2 separate regions of the Homo sapiens genome follow, and region 2 is linked to region 1. The links come from fine-mapping of genetic effects on gene expression. A gene starts in region 1. The other region holds a variant in brackets. All regions are shown on one strand. Distances are between the middles of the regions. Region 1 holds the start of PSD2 (pleckstrin and Sec7 domain containing 2). Region 2 has its middle 22 kb from the start of PSD2.

Region 1 (10,161 bases):
AGCAACACCCTCCCAGCAGGGCCCCCAAACCACACAACTCCACTCTCTCTATATGCCACAAGCAGCAGCCCCAATGCTGTCCCCCCTGTCTTGTGCTGGGTGCTGCCACAGCCTCCTGGCTGGTCTCTTTCCCATGTGCTGGCCCAGTCAGCCCCACTCCATCCTCCTCAGAGTGCCTTTCCAACACTCCAAACTGCCTCATCATCCCCTCTTCAAAACCCTTCAGTGGTTTTGAAGTGCCCTTGGGGAAAAGGCCAACCCCTCAGCCCACATTCCAGGCTAGCTGTGGCCTGGGCCTCCCTTCCTGTCTGGCCCCCATGCCCTCTCCCCTTGCTGTGCCTCTCACTACTTTCTCTGGGCTTCCCCTCTCCCCCACCAACAGCACCTGTCTGAGTTGTGGCTCCCCCACTCCCAACCCTGAAGTTTTGAGCTCCCTGAAAGTTTCTGTCTGCTTCTCTATTCTCCAGCATCTGGTCTGATGTAGGGGTTCAGTCAGATTTGCTGACCTGGTGCGCAGATTACCAGGTAGATGAAGCTTCTGGAGGTAGGGAAGGGGGAGGAACAGAATTGAAATACAGGGACCCCTGAGCCAAGTGACCTAACTTACCACCACCTACTACAGGACAAACTAATAACAGGTGCCTGCCAATATCATGCACTGAGAAGGACATGACATCATCTATGAGATATTCTTGCCCCAAAATGGTTAACTTGACTCTAATCACAAGCAAGCAAGAAGACAAATCCAGGATGTGAGACGTATCACAAGCCTTCCAAATTGACAATGTCATTAAAAAAAATCTCAAAAAAGCCAGGGATTCATCCAGATTGAAACACTAAAGAGCCATAATAACTAAATGCAATGTATGTTCCATGATCAAATTAAAAAAAACAGCTATAAAGGACTTTACTGAGACAACTAGAGAAATTTAAATATGGACTACATGTTAGGTTAAACTGGATGATTACTAAACTTCTTGGGTATGATAACAATGCATTATTTTTGTAGAAAAATGTCCCTGTCTCAGGAAATTCATGCTGAAGTATTTAGAGGTGAAGTGTTATAATGTTGGCAACTTACTTTCAAAAGATTGAGAGAGAGAGAGAAAGAGAGAGAGAGAGAAACAAATGTGGCAAAATGTTAACAACTGGCAAATCTAGGTCTCTAGGTGAAGGGTATGTAGGTGGGTGTTCACTATACTATCAGCTTTGACAAGATAAAAAGTAAGGTGGGAGAAGGAAGGGAGTGGAGGGAGACGTTCCAAAGAGGGGAGCTCAGGGGTTGGAATTTTGGGGCAGGAGTCAGAGGAGAGGACATTCCTTCCCCAGGGCAGTCCACAAACCTGAGCATGCAGAGCTGTGGGCCAGCCCACAGGCCAGCCCAGGCCAGGCAGGCACAGCGCTGGAGTGGCTTACCACCTGAAAAGGGGGCCAGACCCTGAGGAAACGGACTCACCTGTGGGCAAGCCGGCTTAGAGGGACAAGGAAAACAAGCTGGTCCCAGGGAGACCAGGGCAGGAACATGGGCCCCTCCCCCTCCATTGAGCTGTGGCAAGGAGCCAGGTCTGGCCCCAAGCCCACCCAACTCCCCCAAACACCCCTCAAGGGGCGACAGCCTAAGTGTATCCTCCTGTTTGGAGAGCCAGTCTAAATACGGAGCCTCAGACATAAGATGCCGCTCAAAACAGATTTTCCTGGAAAAGACCATCTGGCAAAGGAGGTCTAGAGCATCGTCTGTTGTGAGAGGCAGTGTTGATCTCCTGCAAGCCAACGTCCGGAATGGGAATGCCTTGATCCCACCTCCCTAGGAAACTACAGCTTAGTGCTTGTTTTTCCCAAGGTCACCCTCTTGCCCAGATGGAGAGACACTCTATCCCACCTCCCACCTCTCTCCTAAATTGTGTCTCCAGGGAAGAAGAGGAGAGGATGGGGACACAGGTCTGAGTATCAGACAGTTCTGGCCAAGTGCAAATCCTCACTCTGCCACTTACTAACCAGGAGACTTTGAACAAACAGCTCTACCACAAAATGGGAATAAGGGTAGTGCCTCCCTCTAAAGACTGTTATGAGGGTACTTAGCACATATGCTCCATATGTGGAAGCTAGGTGAGGTAATACCCCCCAGCCACACTCTCTCTCTCAGTCCTGTCTAGAGCAGGAAGTCATTCCTTCCAGCTATCTTTGCTCTCTCCCTTCAGGGAAGACCCTGGGAGGCACTATTTGTCAGGTCTGCTTGTGGAGCGTGCACCCCATAGTTGTCAGACCAGGACAAGCTGCAGCGGGGAGGCCTCTGGGGGCATCCCTGGGCTGCAGGGTGCAATTCACCCAAGCATTGAGACTTCAACCTTGCAAGAGGCACCAGTGAGGGAGGCCTTCCAAGGACAACCCAGTCATCCTCCTTTAGCTGGGCCACACCCACCTACTCACCCCACTGCGTGGGAATCTTTTGGGGGCTCTGGCCAAACCCTAGGGACCTGCTATGTTTCCACCAGGACCAAACTTTGCAGTAGCCCCACTCAAAAGCCCCTGTTCCCTGCTTCCCGCATATATTGGGGAAAGGGGCTGCTGGGAGGACAGCAGGCACATTTTACTGATTCGGAGATCCCAGGCCCCAGAACTTGTAGCTTCCCTGGGAGACAGGTTCCTAAAGTCCTGGGGAGAGGGTGGAAGAATGAAAGAACGACTGCAACTGCCCTGGGCCACGGGTTGGGTTTGGAGGCAGTCCCAGCCCAGTGAACCCCCCCACCCCCAACCACTATTAAGCAGCTCTTGTTTGTAGGATCTAGAAAAAGGAACTGGGGAACCCAGGAAAGTCCAAACCCAGGCTGCCCACCTGCCCTGGCCAAATCCTGAGCCCTCTCGCTGATCCCCATCAAATTCAGCCTGGCTTATCCCCAGGCTGCCAGGAGTCTTAGGCCCTCTTCCATTGTGACTGCTGCTTCTGCTCCCTGTTCTCTTCCTGGCCCCCCCAAGATGGCCCCAAGACAAAGGGGTGGGCTTGAGACAGTGGCCCCCTGGGCCTATGCAAAAACAATGCCCCCAGTGATCATTCCGGGGAGTCCCTGCATCCTCTAGGAACAGCTGAATACCTCCTCCTCCGAGGGGGCCCGCTGGGCAGGGTTGTCCCCAGTCTGGACTCCCTCTGCACCCAGCCCCAGCAGCCCGCTCCTGGGACCCCTCCCTCCCGCTGCCGCCTCGGCCATTATGTGCCTCCTCAGCCCTGACTGCCACGCCCCCGTGCGAGCCCCCGCTCTAGCTGCAGAGCCGGGGAGGCCTGGCCGCCAAGCAGGGCTGTCAAAGTTGGGAAACTGGAAACAGAAATAAATCCTCAAAGCTGCAGCCTCGTGAAGGTGGCTGCCGGCAGGCCCCGGTACCCAATGCCCCGATCCCCGACCACCAGGCTGCCACTGGCACCCCCCACGCACACGCGTACCCCCAGATTATACAAAAGCGGGGAGAGGGTAGTGGGTGGCGGAGCCGGGAGACAATCGGCCCGGCAGCCCCCACCGTCCCTCAGGCTGGGCTCGGGCTTTCCCGCGGCGCCCCCTCTCCCCGGCCCAGACCCGGCCAGCCCGGGCTTCCTCTCTCGGCCCCATCTCCATGACAACCGTATCCTTCGGATGCTCCAGACGCCGCGGAATTGATCTGGAAATGTAGCTTTGTTAGCGGACCCGGGTGGGCACCGAGGGCGAGGGCGACGCCCCCCACCCGCACGCGGCCCTCTCCCCGGCCCGTCCCGCCCCGGCCTGGCCGCCAGCGGGGAGGGGCGGGTCCCGGAGCCCCGCGGCCCCACTCACCGCTGCTGGTCCCCGCCGCGGGTCCGGCCTCTCACGGCGGGGCCATCGGAGGCCGCCGGGCTGCCTGTCCCGCCCCGCCGCCGCCGGTCGGAGCTGCCCGCGCCCGCCCGCGTCCCTTCAGGTGCCGGAGCCGCGATGTGGAGAGGCTGAGCGAGGGGGACGGACGGCAGGAGGGAGGGAGCGGAGCCGTGAGCTGGAGGAGGAGGAGGAGGGAGGAGCGGGAAGGGCGGGGAAGGGCGGGGGCACTGCGGGCGCGCGAGCGGCGGGCGCGGAGCCCGGAGGGAAGCGCGGCCCCCAGCCCTGTCCGCTTGCAGCGCAGCGCTCGCCCCGGGACCCCGAGCGTGCCGGGGAGAGCGCGGCCCACCTTGTCCCCCTCTGCCCCGCGCGGGCCCTTTAAGAAAGGGGGGGAGGGGAGCGCCCGGGGTTCTGCCCCCTCCTAGCCACGCTGGGCCCCTGCCGTCCTCGAACCCTCGGGCAGACCCAACCACCTCCGCCCTCCAGGCAGGACCCACCGGTCTAGAACCTGAGCTCTCGGGACCCGCCAGGCCCTGGAGGTGAAGGAGGGGGCGGGTCCTGGCCCTCCTCCCGCGGTCTGTTCAGGGAGTGACCCCTGCCCCCAGCCCCCCGACACACACGCCAGCCCCCGGGAGACGCCGCCAAGGGAGGAGCAGGGAGTGCGGGGGGCCAAGGTGAAGAATCTCAGAGAGGGAGACTGAGCCCCTGAGACCTAGAGTCACACGGGACGGGACGGAGACCTGGGCTGTGGGGTGAGAAGGAGCCTCGGGACAGAGTGGGATGGGAGGAGGCAGGAGAGAGGAGAAAGAGACAAAGGAGAAAGAACCTGAGGGAGGCGGGAGGTGAGGGGTGGGTCCAACCAAGAATCCACATCCCTGTGCCAGGTCAAGGGGAAGCCTCCCTGGGCAGATATAAGGAGACAGAGAGAGACAGAGGGTGCCCTGGGCAGAGGAAACCATCTCCCAAGGCACCTGTCCCACGGTGTCTCCCCAAGGGCAAGTCAAGGCCCTGAAGCCGCCCCCCTCAGCCCAGGACTCTAACTGAAGAAGAGGGTTGACTGGCTGTACCTGGGCTAGACATTAAGAACTTCCTGGCTGTGAGGCACCTGCAGAGTAAGAGTCCGCCTCTCAGAGAGGCATTAAAGGGCCCCCACCCACAGGGATCTAAGGAGGGCGTGGGGAGCAGGCCCAGTGCCTGGGAGAAGGGAAATCAGGATAGAGTCAGGCCCTGCCACTGGAGGCCACTTTCTACCCCTCTCCCCTACTCCAGCCCCTGGGGGGTTCACCACACCCAGTTGCTTCCATCTCCAGACCTCAGCAGATGATCCACACTCTGCCCGGTGGGGCCTTGATCCTGCTGTGCTCAGTGAACTCCTACTGAACCCTCAAATTCCTCCTTAAATGCCCCTTCCTTCATGAAGTCTTCTCTGACCTTCTTTCCACCCATGAACACACAAACATGGACTCTTCTTAGGGAGCAGGAAGAGGATTTGCTGACCTCTTAGGGTGGCAGTAATTGGAGGTGTGGAATCTGAGCTGTGCGTAGTCTCCCTCCCTTCAAGCTGGGCAACAGCAGGAGCTGGGACTTCATCAACCATGGTGACACCTCTGACAACCAAGCATCTACCAAGTGCTCTTCATGTGTCATATTTAATTCTCAAAACAATCCTACAACCCGTTTTACAGATGAGAAAACTGAGACTTGGAGAGCATAAGTCACTTGCTCATGATCCCAGGAGATCTGAATCTGTGAGCACAGCTGGTCAATTAAGAGGGCACTCAGACCACATCCTTCACTGCCCATCAAACCCTAGGACATTACCGCAGAGCCCAGAAACAAGGGAGCCACTCTCTGTGCAGGTGCCCAGGATCTTAAAGGGCACAGAGGGAGCTTGGCTTCCCTGCTGTCCTGCATTCTACCCCCCTGCCCTCTGCTACCTGTAGGCAGAGAAGGGTGGCGACCAGCAGGGGCTGTGGAGGGAAGTGCTCATGGCAGGGCTTAGATACCACATTCCCCACCCTTGGCACCCATGCCCTCAAGTCACAGCTGGACCACCTTTCTGGGCTCCTACTTCCTCATCTGCCCAATGAGGATGGTAGCAGTCCCCCTCTTTGTGAGGCTAGGATGGGGACCGAAAGAGCTGATGTGCTCAAGACCTGGCACACAGATGCACTCAATGGGCCATGGCTGTTCCAGCTGTAATGATTACTTACTCATGGAATGCACTATTTAATTGTTGTCCACTGGATGGACTCTGAGCCCCTTGAAAGGGTTCACAGTGTATCCTCAGCACCTAACACTCAGCATGGCTTAATAAATTATGTGGAAGGAAAGAACAGGGAAAGGGGAAAGGTAGACATAGCTGTCTCTCCAGCTAACTTGCGCTGGGCTGGCACACAGAACCTAGTCTCTGCCCCCTGGATCTGCCCCCTGTCCTTTGTAGCTCTGGGAGCCTGTGGCAGGGGCAAGGAGACCCGGGTTCTAGTCCAGTCCCCCCAACCCACACTTCCTAGCTGTGTGGCTATGGGCAGCTGTACCCTTTCCTGAACCTTCCTTTCCCCTCCGTCAAGTGGAACTAGCTCCCTAGGGCTCAGAGGGCTGCCTGGAGGCCACAGGTGAGCTCTGTGTGAGTGTTCTGGGTGCCATGGACACTGGAGAGGGGAGTATTGTTACTGTTCCTTGTGGCTACCTTCGCCTCCTGAAAGACAGCAGGGTCAGGCTGGGAATGGTGGCTCACGCCTGTAATCCCAACACTTTGGGAGGCCAAAGTGGGTTGGATCACTTGAGGTCAAGAGCTCGAGACCAGCCTGGCCAACACAGTGAAACCCCCCTCTCTACTAAAAATACAAAAATTAGCCGGGTGTGGTGATGCACACCTGTAATCCCAGCTACTCCGGAGGCAAGAGAATCACTGGAACCCAGGATGCAGAGGTTGCAGTGAGCCAAGATCGTGCCACTACATTCCAGCCTGGGCAACAGAGCAAGACTCAGTCAAAAGAAGAAGGAAAGAAGAAAGAAAGACAGAAAGAAAGAAAGAAAAAAGAAAGAAAGAAGGAAGGAAGGAAGGAAGGAAGGAAGGAAGGAAGGAAGGAAGGAAGGAAAGACAGAAAGAAAAAAAGAAAGAAAGGAAGGAAGGAAGGGAAGGAAGGAAAAGAGAGAGAGAAAGAGAGGGAGGGAGGGAGGAAGGAAGGAAGGGAGAAAGAGAAAGAAAGAAAGAAAAAAGAAAGAGAGAAAGAAAAGAAAAGAAAGAAAGAGAAAGAAAGACAGCAGGGTCAACATCCCCCTACCCAGGAGCCAGAATAGACGATATTTCCCCCATTCCTCAAGGGAAAGAAGAATGCGCAGCTTCTCCCTGTTCCTCCAAGTGACCTCCCTTTCCTCCCCCACCCCGCCTCCTCACCTGAGGGGGTCTCATAAGAAGCAGGTGCCAAGGCTGAACCAAAGACCCTTGCACATGGAGGGGCCTTTTCCCATGGTTTACCGCCTGGCCCTTGACTGGTCCCCAGGAGAGCATGAAAGTTATGGGGGGAGGGGGGGCCAGCTGCATTGGGCATGGTCAGCACCTTGGGCAGGGACAGAGGGACCCACCAATTGGGAGGACTCATTTGGGTCCAACCCAGAAGAGGCTTGACTCAGAGGACCCCTAAAACACCCAATTCTCCCATCTTCCAGCTGGAAGCCTGAGGCCCAGGTGGGGTGCCTGGGTAGGGATTCCCCAGGCCAATCCCAGAGAGCTCAATAAGCACCTACTGTGTTCACAGCTTTGTTGTAACCTGCCCCTGTCCCCAGCACCCCCACGACCCCAAGATGAAGGCCCCAATTCACCTATTCTATGTCCCCTCTCCTGACACTTCCCACCTCAAATTTGATGTCCTAGGACCCCTCCCACACTCATTCCCCCTCAACCATTTCTAGTGACCTCCCTTTGCTTAGGCAGGCTCTCTGCCTGGGATGCCTTCCCCTTCACGCACTCTCATTTGGCTAATTCCTCTCCACTCCCCAGCTACCATCCCATTTCTCTTTACCTATTACAGCAAAGCTCCTTGAAAAAGTTGTCCATGCTGGCTGTCTCTAATTCCTGTCTCTCAAAGGAACTCCAGTCTAGCTCTTATCTCCCTGTACAGTCCACTGACACCACTCATCAAAGTCACCAACACAGTTGCTGAGTACAGATGTGCAGGCTGGGCACTGCACAAGGGTGCTGGGTTACATGAAGGATGGAGAGGTAGCTAAAACCCAACCTGTTCTCCTTTCACCATGCTGTGTGTCCTGATGCAAGGTTGTATCTGTCAGGGGAAGAGATGCCTTTTTCTTTCTCTTTTTTTTTTGTTTTTTGTTTTTTGTTTTCTGAGAGAGGGTCTCAGGCCAGCATAGTGCAGTGGCACAATCATGGCTCGCTGCAACCTGAGTACAGTGTTAGCTGTGGGTTTTTCATAAATGCCCTTTATCATGTTGAGTTCATTCCCTTCTATTCCTAGTTTGTTGAGTGGGTTTCTTTTTGTTTTTGGTTTTGTTTTGTTTTGTTTTTTGTTTTTCTTTTAGAGACAGGAATACCCAGGCTGGAGTGCAGTGGCATGATCTCAGATCAGTGCAGCCTTGACTTCCCAGGCTCAAGCGATCCTCCCATCTCAGCCTCCCCAGTAGCTAGGACTACAGGCATGCACCACTATACCCAGCTAATTTTTATATTTTTTGTAGAGATGGAGTTTCGCCATGTTGCCCAGGCTGGTCTTGACTTCCTGGGCTCAAGTGATCCTCCTGCCTTGGCTTCCCAAAGTGCTAGGATTACAGGTGTGAGCCACTGTGCAGAGTGCCTTTTTCTTTACAGCAAGGTATCCACCTTCTGTTTGCCTGTGTAGCCAGGTCCACCTGGAATGGCCACCATTTTCTTTTCTTTTTTTATTTTTTTGAGATGAAGTTTCACTTTTGTTGCCCAGGCTGTAGTGCAATGGTGCAATCTCGGTTCACTGCACCCCCCACCTCCTGGGTTCAAGCGATTTTCCTGCTTCGGTCTCCCGAGTAGCTGGGATTATAGGCGCTCCCCCCCACCCAACCACCACACCCAGCTAATTTTTTGTATTTTTAGTAGAGACAGGGTTTCATCATGTTGGCCAGGCTGGTCTTGAACAACTGACCTCAGGACACCCACCTCAGCCTCCCAAAGAGCTGGGATTACAAGCATGAACCACAGCACCCGGCCATGGCCACCATTTTCTAAAGTTTGTACATGGTGCTAGACTGTGGCCTAGTCCTCAGTGACTGCCACAATGCTAAATCCAAAAGTCCATTCACAGGCCTGGTCTTAGCTTCCTGACAGCATCTGACACCGTTCATCCCCGCTTCCTCCTTGACATACTTTCTTCCCTTGACTTCCAGGACTCCTCACTGTCATGTTTTTCCTCCTGCCTCTCTGGCTGCACCTTCTCATCTTCCTTTGCTAGTTTCTCCGCCCCTCTCTGACCTCCAATGCCAGAGCTCCCAGGGCTCAGTCCTCGGTCTTCTCCATCTCACTCTTTCCCATGATGACCCCAGCCCAGCTTCAAAGCCCAGCTAAACCCTGAAGCTTCTCGGTGTGTGATTCTCCAACCTGGACCTTTCCACCTGAGGTCAGACCCCAACACCCAAGTGCTGACCTGAAGTTGCCACTAGGATATCCAAAGAGCAGTTCCATCTTAACCCAACCCACACTGACCTCCTCTTCCTCTTTGCCGTAAACATCACGACCACAAGGCCAGCCTGGTCTCGAATTCCTGGGCTCAAGTGATCCTCCTGCCACAGCCTCCCAAAGTGCTGGGATTACAGGCGCGAGCTCCCGTGCCCAGACTCAAACCAAGTCTTTACGCAGGCCACAAAATCCCATAAGATCTGGCCCCCACCACTCCTCTGACCTCATTCTCCTGCAGACACACCGGTCCCCTCCCTGTTCCTCCAAAGCACCAGGGACACTCCCACCTCAGCGCCCGCCCGGCCCCGTGCTGCTCTCTGCCTAAAACACTCCTCCCCCAGGTATCCGCACCGCCCACCCCTCACTTCCTTCAGCGCTCTCTTCCAATGTCACCTTTTCTGACCACTCTACTAAAATTCTACCCCCTCCTTCATCCACATCTCCCATTTCCCCGCCTTCTTTTCCTCCATAACACATATGTATATACCATATGCTTGTCCTTTCTGGGAATGGTCTGTGTCCCCACCACCGCTGCCATCACTAGGCCATAGGCTCCATGAGGGTAAGAATTTTCCTCTCTCCCTTGTAGATTCCCAGGGGGCTGGAACAGTGCCTGGCACCCAGTGGGCATTTACTGAAGCACTCATATAATGAGTGCCCACTATTCCTAGTTTGTTGAGTGAG
Region 2 (10,161 bases), 20 kb after region 1:
AAATAAATTAGAAAACCCGGGGGGTGGCTACGTAGGTGTTCACTGTAAAATTTGTTCAACTTTTTTGTATGTCTGAAATTTTAACAATAAAATGTGGAGAAGAAGACAGCCAAAAGACCACAAATTGGGTGCAGTGTATACTGCTTAGGTGATGGCTGCACCAAAATCTCACAATCACCACTAAAGAACTGACTCATGTAACCAAACACCACTTGTTCCCCAATAACCTATGGAAATAAAAAAAATTAATAAATAAATTAAAAAACAACTGATGGCTAAGTCCTGGGGAAATCAGCACAGGCCCACAGCTGTCAGCATTTAGGAGGCAAATGCAGCGCACCTTTTGGGAAGCAATTTGTCAACATGCACCAAAAGCCTTAAAAAAGTTTCTGTCCTTTAACCAAATTTTTTCTTTCTTTTTTTTTTTTTTTTTGTTTTTTTTCTTTTTTTGAGACATTGGCTCGCTCTGTCACCCAGGCTGGAGTGCAAGGGCACTATCATGGCTCACTGCAGCCTCGACATCCTGGGTTCAAGCAACCCTCCCACCTCAGCCCCCTGAGTAGCTGCGACTATAGGCACGTGCCACCACACCCAGCTAATTTTTTGCACTTTTTTTTTTGGAGAGATGGGTTTCTGTCAAGTTGCCAGGCTGATCTCAACCTCCTGGGCTCAAGCGATCCTTGGCCTCCCAAAGTGCTAGTATTACAGGCGTAAGCCACCACGCCTGACCCTCATTGCTAGGGATTTATCCTAAGAAAATAAAGATGGATGTGGGCAAAGATATAGCTACAAGGATGTTCATTACAATATTGATTATAATGGCAAAAAGTTGTAAATAACTTAAATGTCCTAAAATAGGGTATTGGTTAAAGAAATTGTGGTGTCTTTATGCACTGGAGTATTATGTCATTAAAATGATGCATCACAAATATTTGCTGAAATGGAAAGATATTCTTTATCTATACAGTTAAGGAGGAAGCAGAGCCTCTGGAGTCACTCTTCTCTTGACTAGAGACCCCATCCCATGACATGGGCTACTCAGTGTACCACTGCCTGTCCCAAGGCTTACAGTTCTTGGGGGGCCTTAATGTCTCCTTATTGTGACTAGCTGTCTTCCTATTTTCATGACATTCTCCACTTCCCACCTGCCTTGTACATCTTGTGTGCACTGTCCCATTTCCCCCTGCACTGTCCCTTGGGAACCACACTTATTCCTTCACACCTCGAGTGCCACTAATTGGGCATACAACTTTGACTGACATTTGCAGTGAAGGCATAACTGGACCTTGTGTAGGACTTTCCTAGGGGGCCAGCACTGAAGCCCTCGCTTCTTCATTCTGAAAGAGGCCCTGCCCATGGGGGCCTGGGTTTGCCTTGTTCCCAGGCTCTAGGAGGAAGGTGGTGGAGACTGAGAGGGAATGGTTGTTGGGAGCCTGTCTGGAGGGCAATGCTTCAGCAAAATGCTCCTACATTTCTTTTTTTATTTGTCTGTTTTTGAGACAGGATCTCCCTCTGTCACCCAGGCTGGAATACAGTGGGGCTATCATGGCTCACTGTAGCCTCAACCTCCTGAGCTCAAGCAATCCTCCCACCTCAGCCTCCCAGGTAGCTGGGAACACAGGTGTGTGCCACCACACGCAGCTAATTTTTGTATTTTTGTAGAGATGAGGTCTGGCCATGTTGCACAGGCTCATCTCGAACTCCAGAGCTCAAGCACTCCACCCACGTCGGCCTCCCAAAGTGCTGGGATTAAGGGCATGAGCCACAGCACCCAGGCTGCTCCCCACATTTCTAGCATGGCCTTTGGAAACTAAATTTTTCTTTATCATCAAAATTATTTTATTCTCTTTGCCCCAATCCTCAGTCTTCCTGAGCAAACCTGTCTTACAACCAAATGACCTTCAAGCTACTAAGTTAGACAGACGTTGCCTTTCTCCCCTACAAGGCCTCCCTCCCACCAGCTTTGAAATAGTCTTGCTTTTGCCTCTCACTTTAATGCACACATTGGCATCTGTTTGCAACAAGAGGCCCCAAGGAGCTAAAAGAGGTCATCTCTGGGTGGTAGGATTGGGGATATTTTTCCCTTGTGCATATTTTTTACTTTCCCTATAACAAACACATATTTTTTTGTGTATTGAGAAAAAGCCACTACAGAAGGGGCCATTGCCAATTAGGGTATACCCAGTGGAGGGTTGCCCAGGAGATGAAGGGCTGAAAAGGTTGTTTATAGGGAACTGGCACCACTTAAGCTGGAGAAAAGGCTGGAATGGGGATGGGAGGACACAGACCTCTCTGCAGCCATCTGGGGCCTGTGTGCAGCAGATGGAGTCACTTGTTCTGTGCTCCACAGAGTGAGCTAGTTCCAACAGCTGGACAGCACAAGAAGGCCAGCTTGGTCTCACTAGAAGAAACTGTCCTACAGTGGAAACTACATGCCTTTTAAGGCAGCTATCTCCCCATCACATAAGGTGTGCAAGCAAGATGGGCAGCCCATTGTCGGGAGGGTTAGAGAGGGGATTTATAGGCTGGCCAGGAGAATGGACTGTGGTTCTTTGAGGTGCCTTAATGAAGCTCACCAGCTACTCAGGAGGCTGAGGAAGGAGGATCACTTGAGCCCAGGAAGTTGAGGCTACAGTGAGCCTTGATCATGCCACTGCACTCCAGCCTGGGTGACAGAACAAGACCCTATCTGGAAAAAAAAAAAAAAAGCAGCTCAGAATGACCTGAGCAAAGTGTCAAGGGAGCTCTGCGACCATGTCTAACATTGGTGAATAGAGGGGATGGTCAGGGAGGACTTCCTGGAGGAGTTCAGAAAACTGACTTTATGGCCCCTCAATCTCCAGCCTCTGGGTACATATCTTATTGACCTCTTTTTCTGGGGTCATCCAGCCGTTTCTGGACAAAAACAAACAAAGCCTCAGCCCCTGCCTTGCTGCAGGATCCTAGATAATTCCCTGCTCCTCTCTGGGCCTCAGGATGCCCTTCTGCTCAATGTTCTCAGCTGAAATTACCCATGATTTTTCCTCCAGGGCAGGCCAAACTGCCAGTCATGCACTTGGGGGAGGGAGGCTGCTGGGTTTTTTAGGGGGACCCTGGTTGTATCCCAGCTTACAGCCCTTGGGACTTGGGCCCGATGCCCAGAGGAGATTCAGCAGAGGTGGCAGGGGTCCCAGAAGCAGGCCAGGGGCTCAGCCAGGCTCCCTGGATACCCCTCCCCAGCCCTCAGCGGCAGGAGGTCAGGAAGGAGACTGGATGTTATCCTGCCGGTGTCGTTACCATGGTGATGGGGTATATATCTGAGCTCTCCCCAGGGCCCCTGAACCCCTCCTCAGGGACCTTGGGGAGGCGTCTTGGAGGGGGATGAGGCAGAGTGTGGTGGGGGCAAACTGAGGTCAGAAGACAGGTGAAGAGGCTGGACTCAGTGGCTCACGCCTGTAATCCCAGCATTTTGGGAGATCGAGGCAGGTGGATCACCTGAAGTCAGGAGTTTGAGACCAGCCTGACCAACATAGCGAAACTCCGTCTCTACTAAAAATACAAAAATTAGCAGGGCGTGGTGGCGCATGCCTATAATTCCAGCGACTTGGGAGGCTGAGGCAGGAGAATCGCTTGAACCTCGGAGACGGAGGTTGCAGTGAGCTGAGATCGTGCCATTGCACTCCAGCCTGGGCGATAAGAGCTCTCTCTCACAAAAAAAGGAAGAAGAAAGGAGAAGGAGAAGACAGGCGAAGAAACTCCCTCCCCTGCAGATGAGTTCATTTAGGGTGGGGCACTGGGTAGCGCACAGGCTGGGGGGTCAGGCGGGCCTGGTCTGAATTCCCCTGCTGAGTGATCTTGGGTAAGTGGCTCTACGTCTCTGGGCCTGTGAGGATGTTGGTATGACGATTAAATGAGACGCCACTGGGATGGTGATGAGCTCATGACTTTATTTTCTCCTCACACGCACAGACACTTGTAGGCAGAAACTGAGCCAAACCGAGAGTGCCGCAGATGGGCGCCCCTGACCTTCCCGCTGCTCCAAGCTCCCCACTCGGCCTCGCGCGCCCTCCCTCCTCTCATAGCTCGGCGTCCTCGCCCGCCCCCGCGCGGCCCTCCCAGGTACTGCAGCAGCCCCCGCCACTCCCGGAGACAGTGCCCCAACACTCCTGCGTCCCCTGCTGCCTTGCAAAGATAGGGTGTGGAGTAATCTGACCTCAGTGCC[T/G]CAAGGCCTTGTCTCCAAACCTTCGAAGTGTTGGCTGTTCTTCTTGGAGTCTAGCCTCACCTCCTGGGTATGGGTTCCAGATCCATCTTGCTGATCCCAGACTGGTGGTGGGCGCCAGAAGCAACCTTGGCTGGGGCGGCCAATGGCACTGCAGGCAGGAGGGCGGCGGCACAGTACGGTCTCGATAGAGGTCAAATCATGATCTGGGCTCCTGGTGATGTCCAGGAACACACTCCACGCCTCCATGTGCACACATCCACAAGCACCACACTCCCATGGTGGACACAGCAACATCACTACCCAATCAGGCCCCGTCCCTCCCCTGTGCCCTGCGGACCCCGAGGAAAGCGGTGCTTACTCTAAATTGCAAATAGAAAGCCTTTCCCGGGGCCGGGCGCAGTGGCTCACGCCTGTAATCCTGGCACTTTGGGAGGCCGAGGTGGGCGGATCACGAGGTCAGGAGTTCCAGACCAGCCTGACCAACATGGTGAAACCCCGTCTCTACTAAAAAATACAAAAATTAGCCGGGCGTGGTGGTGGGCTCCTGTAATCCCAGCTACTCAGGAGGTTAAGGCAGGAGAATCGCTTGAACTCAGGAGGCAGACGTTGCAGTGAGCCGAGATCGTGCCACTGCACTCCAGCCTGGGTGACAGAGCAAGACTCCATCTCCAGAAAAGAAAAGAAAAGCAAGAAAGCCTTTCCAGGGCCCACAGCCCTGCATCGGCCAGCCCTGCCCACCTCTTAAACCACCTCTTCCCCCATTCCCCCTGCCCATTATTCACTATTTTCCAGCAAAAATACGCAGTGCTCACTCCACACTTCAGGTCCTGTGCACTTACTGTTCCCTCTCCCTGAACCTCCACTCCTTATCCCAGATCCACCACTGGCTGCTTTCTTCCCTTCTTTTAGGCTTCAGTTCAAATACCACCTCCCCAAAGAGTCCTTTGAGACCACTGAAGCTAAGAGGCTCCCCACCCTCCATTCCTGAAAAACATGCTTCCTGCCTAATGTGTAATCTAATCATTAGGACAATGCACATCAAAAAAAAAACGAGACCGAGTGCTGCGGCTCACGCCTCTAATCCCACACTTTAGGAGGCTGAGGTGGGAGGATCACCTGAGTCTAGAAGTTCAAGGCTGCAGTGAGCTATGATGTAAACCCTTGGGACATTGAGGGACAATGTCCCTCAATGTCATTGGGACATTACATCAAGGGACATTGAAACCCTTGTCCCTTGTGCACTGTTGGTAGGAATATAAAAGGGTTCAGCCAGTATGCAAAATAGTATGGTGGTTCCTCAAACAATTAAAAATAAAATTATATGATCCACCAATTCCCCCATCTGGATATATTCCCAAAAGCATTGAAACAAGAACTCGAAGATATGCTTATACCCCTACATTCATAACAGCATCATTCACAACAGCCAAGCGGTGGCAGCCACCCAAGAACCCATCAGCAGGTGAATGGTGGTCTATCCACACAGTGGAGTACTACTCAGCCTTAAAAAGGAAAGAATTATGACATAGACAATATGAGTGAGCCTCAAAGGCACTATGCTGATGAAATAAGCCAGTCACAGAAGGACAAATATGGTATGATTCCATTTATATGATGTACCTAGGGTAGTCAAATTCATAGAGACAGAAAGTAAAATGGGAGGCCAAGATGGGAGAACTGCTTGAGGTCAGGAGTTCAAGACCAGCCTGGGCAACATAGCAAGACTCTGTCTCTAGAAAAAAATGAAAAAAAGCAGGGTGTGGTGGTGTGTGCCTGTAGTCCCAGCTATCAAGAGGCTGAGGCAGGAGGATTCCTTGAGCCCAGGAATTCAAGGCTGCAGTGAGCTATGATTGTGCCACTGCACTCCAGCCCGGGTGACAAAAGCGAGACCCAATCTAAAAAAAGGAAGAAAGGAAGGAAGGTAGGAAGAAAGGAAGGTAGGTGGTTGCAGGGGTGGAGGGTGCTGGGAAAGGAGGTGGGGGAGTTACTGTTTTAATGAGTTCAGAGTTTCAGTTTTGCGAGATGAATGACTTCCAAAGATGGATGGTGGTGACGGTTGCACAATAATGTGAATGTATTTAATGTCACTGAACTGTATACTTAAAAAAGGTTAAGATGATAAATTTTGTTATGTATATTTTACCGTAAATAAAAAAATATGTATCAAAACATTTCTTTGCTTTTTCAATCCTGCCTCATTCATTAAACTGTGACCTCCATAAGAACAGTACCTGTATCTGCCTGGTGCACCTACTGTGTGTTGCTAGTCACTGAAGACTTGGGGACCAAGACAGACAAGGTGCCCACTCACCTGGAGCTCACAGCCTGCGGGGAGGGGAAAAAGATACTGAACAAACAAATAAACAAGAATATTATCACCTATTACCTGCTGTGCAGAAAATTAAAAAGTGAAATGTAACAGAGTGGCTGCATGAGGAGGAGTTTCAACTGGAGCAGTCAGGCATACCATCCCAGAGGAGGTGACATTTGTGCAAAGACCCAAGGAATGATCAAGAGTCAGTCATCAAGCATCCAGGAGACCTGAGCTGCAGACAGAAGAAACAGCAAGTGCAAAGGCCCTGTGCTGGGCATGAGTGTGGCATGCTAGAGGAACAGCAGAGAGAAAAGGAGGGGACGAGGAGGAGAGATGAAAGAAGGAGGCCCTGGGACAGGGAGAAGGAGAGGGGACAGAAGGTGTTCCTGGTCGCAGAGCAGGGAGGCCTCACTGGATCACCAACCTCCTCTTCACAGCAGGGGAGGAGGGGCTCCATGAACCGAGACCTCTAAGTGCCCAGCTCTGCACCAAATGCTTTTTACAGATCGGCTCGGAGAATGCTCTCAACAGTCCTTGGGGCAGGTATAGTCATTAGCCACAATATAAAGAAGGAAACAGGCTCAGAGAACTTGGCTGAGCTGCTGGGTCTGGGACTAGAGTCAAAGTCATAGAGCGGGAGGAGGGATCTAATGCCCCCTGTGCTGCCTTCAAGGACCCAGTCTGGGGACGCTTTTTCCTCCCACCCAGCTGCCCTTCCACTCCCACTCCCACTCCCTCTGCCTCTAGGGAGAGGGCCTCGCACAGGAGGCCTGGCTGCTAACTGATCCCTGCCAAGGGCTTTCCGTTCCTCCTCTCATTGTCCCCTAAGAGCAAGCCAAGGAGAGAACCCACTACCTCTCCCTCACCTGGCTGGGGAAGGGTGCTGGGAGCGAGGAGACAGAAGCCCATCTCCAGTCCCGCAACACCGTTTCTGAGGCCCCTCTGCAGGCCCTGCCCTTGGAAGGGGTTGGACCGTGGTCCTTGGATGGCAGCCCAGTGGTCAGTGAAGATGCCCCCCAAGGCCAGGGGCAACAGCATCTTGAAGTCTGAGAGAACTTACTTCCCCATATGCGCTACACTGCCCCAGACCCTAAATAGCCTGTGGCACACCAGGGAGAGAGCCAGACTCCAGGGACAGCCAGACCTTGCACCAGCTGGGAAGAATGTTATAGAAAGGAAAGCAGGCTGCGGGGCGCGGTGGCTCAAGACTGTAATCCCAGCACTTTGGGAGGCCGAGGTGGGCGGATCACGAGGTCAGGAAATCGAGACCATCCTAGTTAACACGGTGAAACCCCATCTCTACTAAAAATACAAAAAATTAGCCGGGCGTGGTGGCGGGCGCCTGTAGTCCCAGCTACTCGGGAGGCTGAGGCAGGAGAATGGCGTGAACCCAGGAGGCGGAGCTTGCAGTGAGCCGAGATTGTGCCACTGCACTCCAGCCTGGGCGACAGAGTGAGACTCCATCTCAAAAAAAAAGAAAAGAAAAGAAAAGAAAGCAGGCCTGCTTCCTGCCTGCACTCCTGCGCTCAGGCTATTCAGGGCCTTACCCACCACGGCGGCTCCACCACAGAGGGAGTGCCCAGGGGTGGGGCAGCCCCGGGTCCCCAGGCCCGCAATTCCTCACCCTAAAATAGAGACTCCGCCACCCGGGCCAGTCACAACATGGGACCCAGCACAAAATGAAAATGTGGAGCTTCTTGTTCAAAAAGCAGGAGGGAAATGCCTAATAATAAAGGCGCTAAAATATAAAAGTATCTATGTATCTGTACCTAGAGATATATAAAGCTTCGCTTCTTTTCTGTTGGTCTGCCTCTAGATTTGTCATGAGTTTGTATTTGTTAAATATCATTTTAAGTAAAGAAAAATGAAAAATCTAAATGACTAGCATGAATTTTACTATTCATCTTTCTATTGTGCAATGTCAGTTTTAAATGCAAATATAAGGGTGTTTAACTCATATGCAGAATCATCAAAATCGTATAATTTGTATTCAGTACCTTGTGCACACATGTGTATTTCATCTTACCTGAAATGGTGGGAAAGGGCACAAAACTTACTCAACTGTTTTCATTTCTTTTCTTGACTTATGCACATTCTCTCAACATGCTCTGCTTTTAGCTTATGATGTGTGAGGAGGGGCTGAAAGGAAAGGAACTACAGGTTGCCTGATCTGTCCCTGTCCTAGCTCATCATGATTAGTGTCAGCGGTTGGCTTATCCAGCGAAATAACATGAGGAAGAAGGCTATAGCAGGGTTCCTGGGCCATTCATGTTTTTTTGTTTGTTTGTTTGTTTTTTTGACACGGAGTCTCGCTCTGTTGCCCAGGCTGGAGTGTAGTGCCGCGATCTCAGCTCTCTGCAACCTCCGACTCCCCAGTTCAAGCAATTCTCCTAATTCTCCTGCCTCAGCCTCCTGAGCAGCTGGGATTATAGTCCGCCTGCCACCACGACCAGCTAATTTTTGTATTTTAGTAGAGATGGGGTTTCACCATGTTGGCCAGGCTGGTCTCGAGCTCCTGACCTCAGGAGATCCACCTGCCTCAGCTCCCCAAAGTGCTGGGATTACAGGCGTGAGTCACCAAGACAGGCCCTGTTCATGTTTCTTAGCACACAATTGCCTTCTTCTTGCATCTGGCAAGTTCTGGTTGAAATGGATGGTGAGGTCCCTCAGGGCTGTCAGCGTTCCTCTTACTCAGTTGTAGACATAACAAGCTTACCTTACACTCACTTTGAGTCTTGCTGAGCCCCCACATGTGGTGGGGTCATCAGAATCCTGTGCTCACGGGCATCACCAGCACTGCATGCACACAGGAGCCCCAGCCGGCCCGCATGACACCCAGGTTCTACCTCTCTGTGTACCGCATGCTCCACTGTCCCACTGGACCCCACTTACAAAACACAAGTTCAAAGATGAAATTATGAGACATTTCAAGACAGCTACAGCAGAGCATTAAGGTAAGCAGGCCCTGGTGAGCATGGGGCCCTGTGTGACCCCACGTCAATGAAGCTGCCCCACCTCCACCCTCACCGCAAGCCAGATGGAAACTTCCAAGGAGGACTGTGGCTGGCCCAACTCAGGGCACTGCCCCCCACTGCCACCATCAGTGTCTTGAGTCCGAAGTGCAATGACTGACCCAGCCTGGGTCACAAGGCCACCCATGGCCAGGTAGGAGGTGAAGGTGGGGCATCTATGACTCACTTCACCTTTAGGGAACAAAGGTGTGTCCCTGAAGGGCTGGGCAAGTGCTGGACAGATGAGAACTCAAGCCACCACAGTCCCCTGCCCATAGGTGAGGTTCAGTACAGGAGGGCAGTTCAGGCAGGGGAGAAGTCTTTATAATGAAGGAAGGTGGGAAGCCTGAGGAGCCACAAGTGCTACAGCCTGGCTGCCCCCCACAGAGGAGCTGGGAGAGATGAGGGCATAGAGGTAGCAGGTCACATGGAGGCCCTGAGTGCCCTCCATTGGGACTTATCGCACTCTGACCATGCCACCCCTGTCTAGAAGCTTCTCTGGATTTTTGCTGTCAGGAAAATACCCACAGCCCTATCCCTGAGGCCTGAGGCCCGTCCTCCTCTCCCCCAACCCCCGCCGCCACCTGCTCTGCTGCAGCCGTAGCCCTGCTTGCCCTGGGTCTTAGGCTCTGTGC

What was found. PIP is the estimated chance that this variant, and not a neighbour inherited with it, causes the effect.
Region 2: its variant is fine-mapped to the expression of PSD2 in whole blood (TOPMed, PIP above 0.99).

The regions. Positions count from the first base shown.
Region 1 is chr5:139,789,612-139,799,772 of GRCh38, reverse strand. It overlaps PSD2 (pleckstrin and Sec7 domain containing 2), which reads right to left and starts at 3,965. Exons shown (of 15, transcript NM_032289.4): 1 at 3,798-3,965. RefSeq lists a silencer at 4,247-4,446 and an enhancer at 9,231-9,731.
Region 2 is chr5:139,769,218-139,779,378 of GRCh38, reverse strand. It overlaps a transcript of PSD2 not described here. Among named protein-coding and RNA genes, the nearest start is that of PSD2, 22 kb to the left of the region's middle. The variant T/G (reference allele first, on the strand shown) is at 4,202.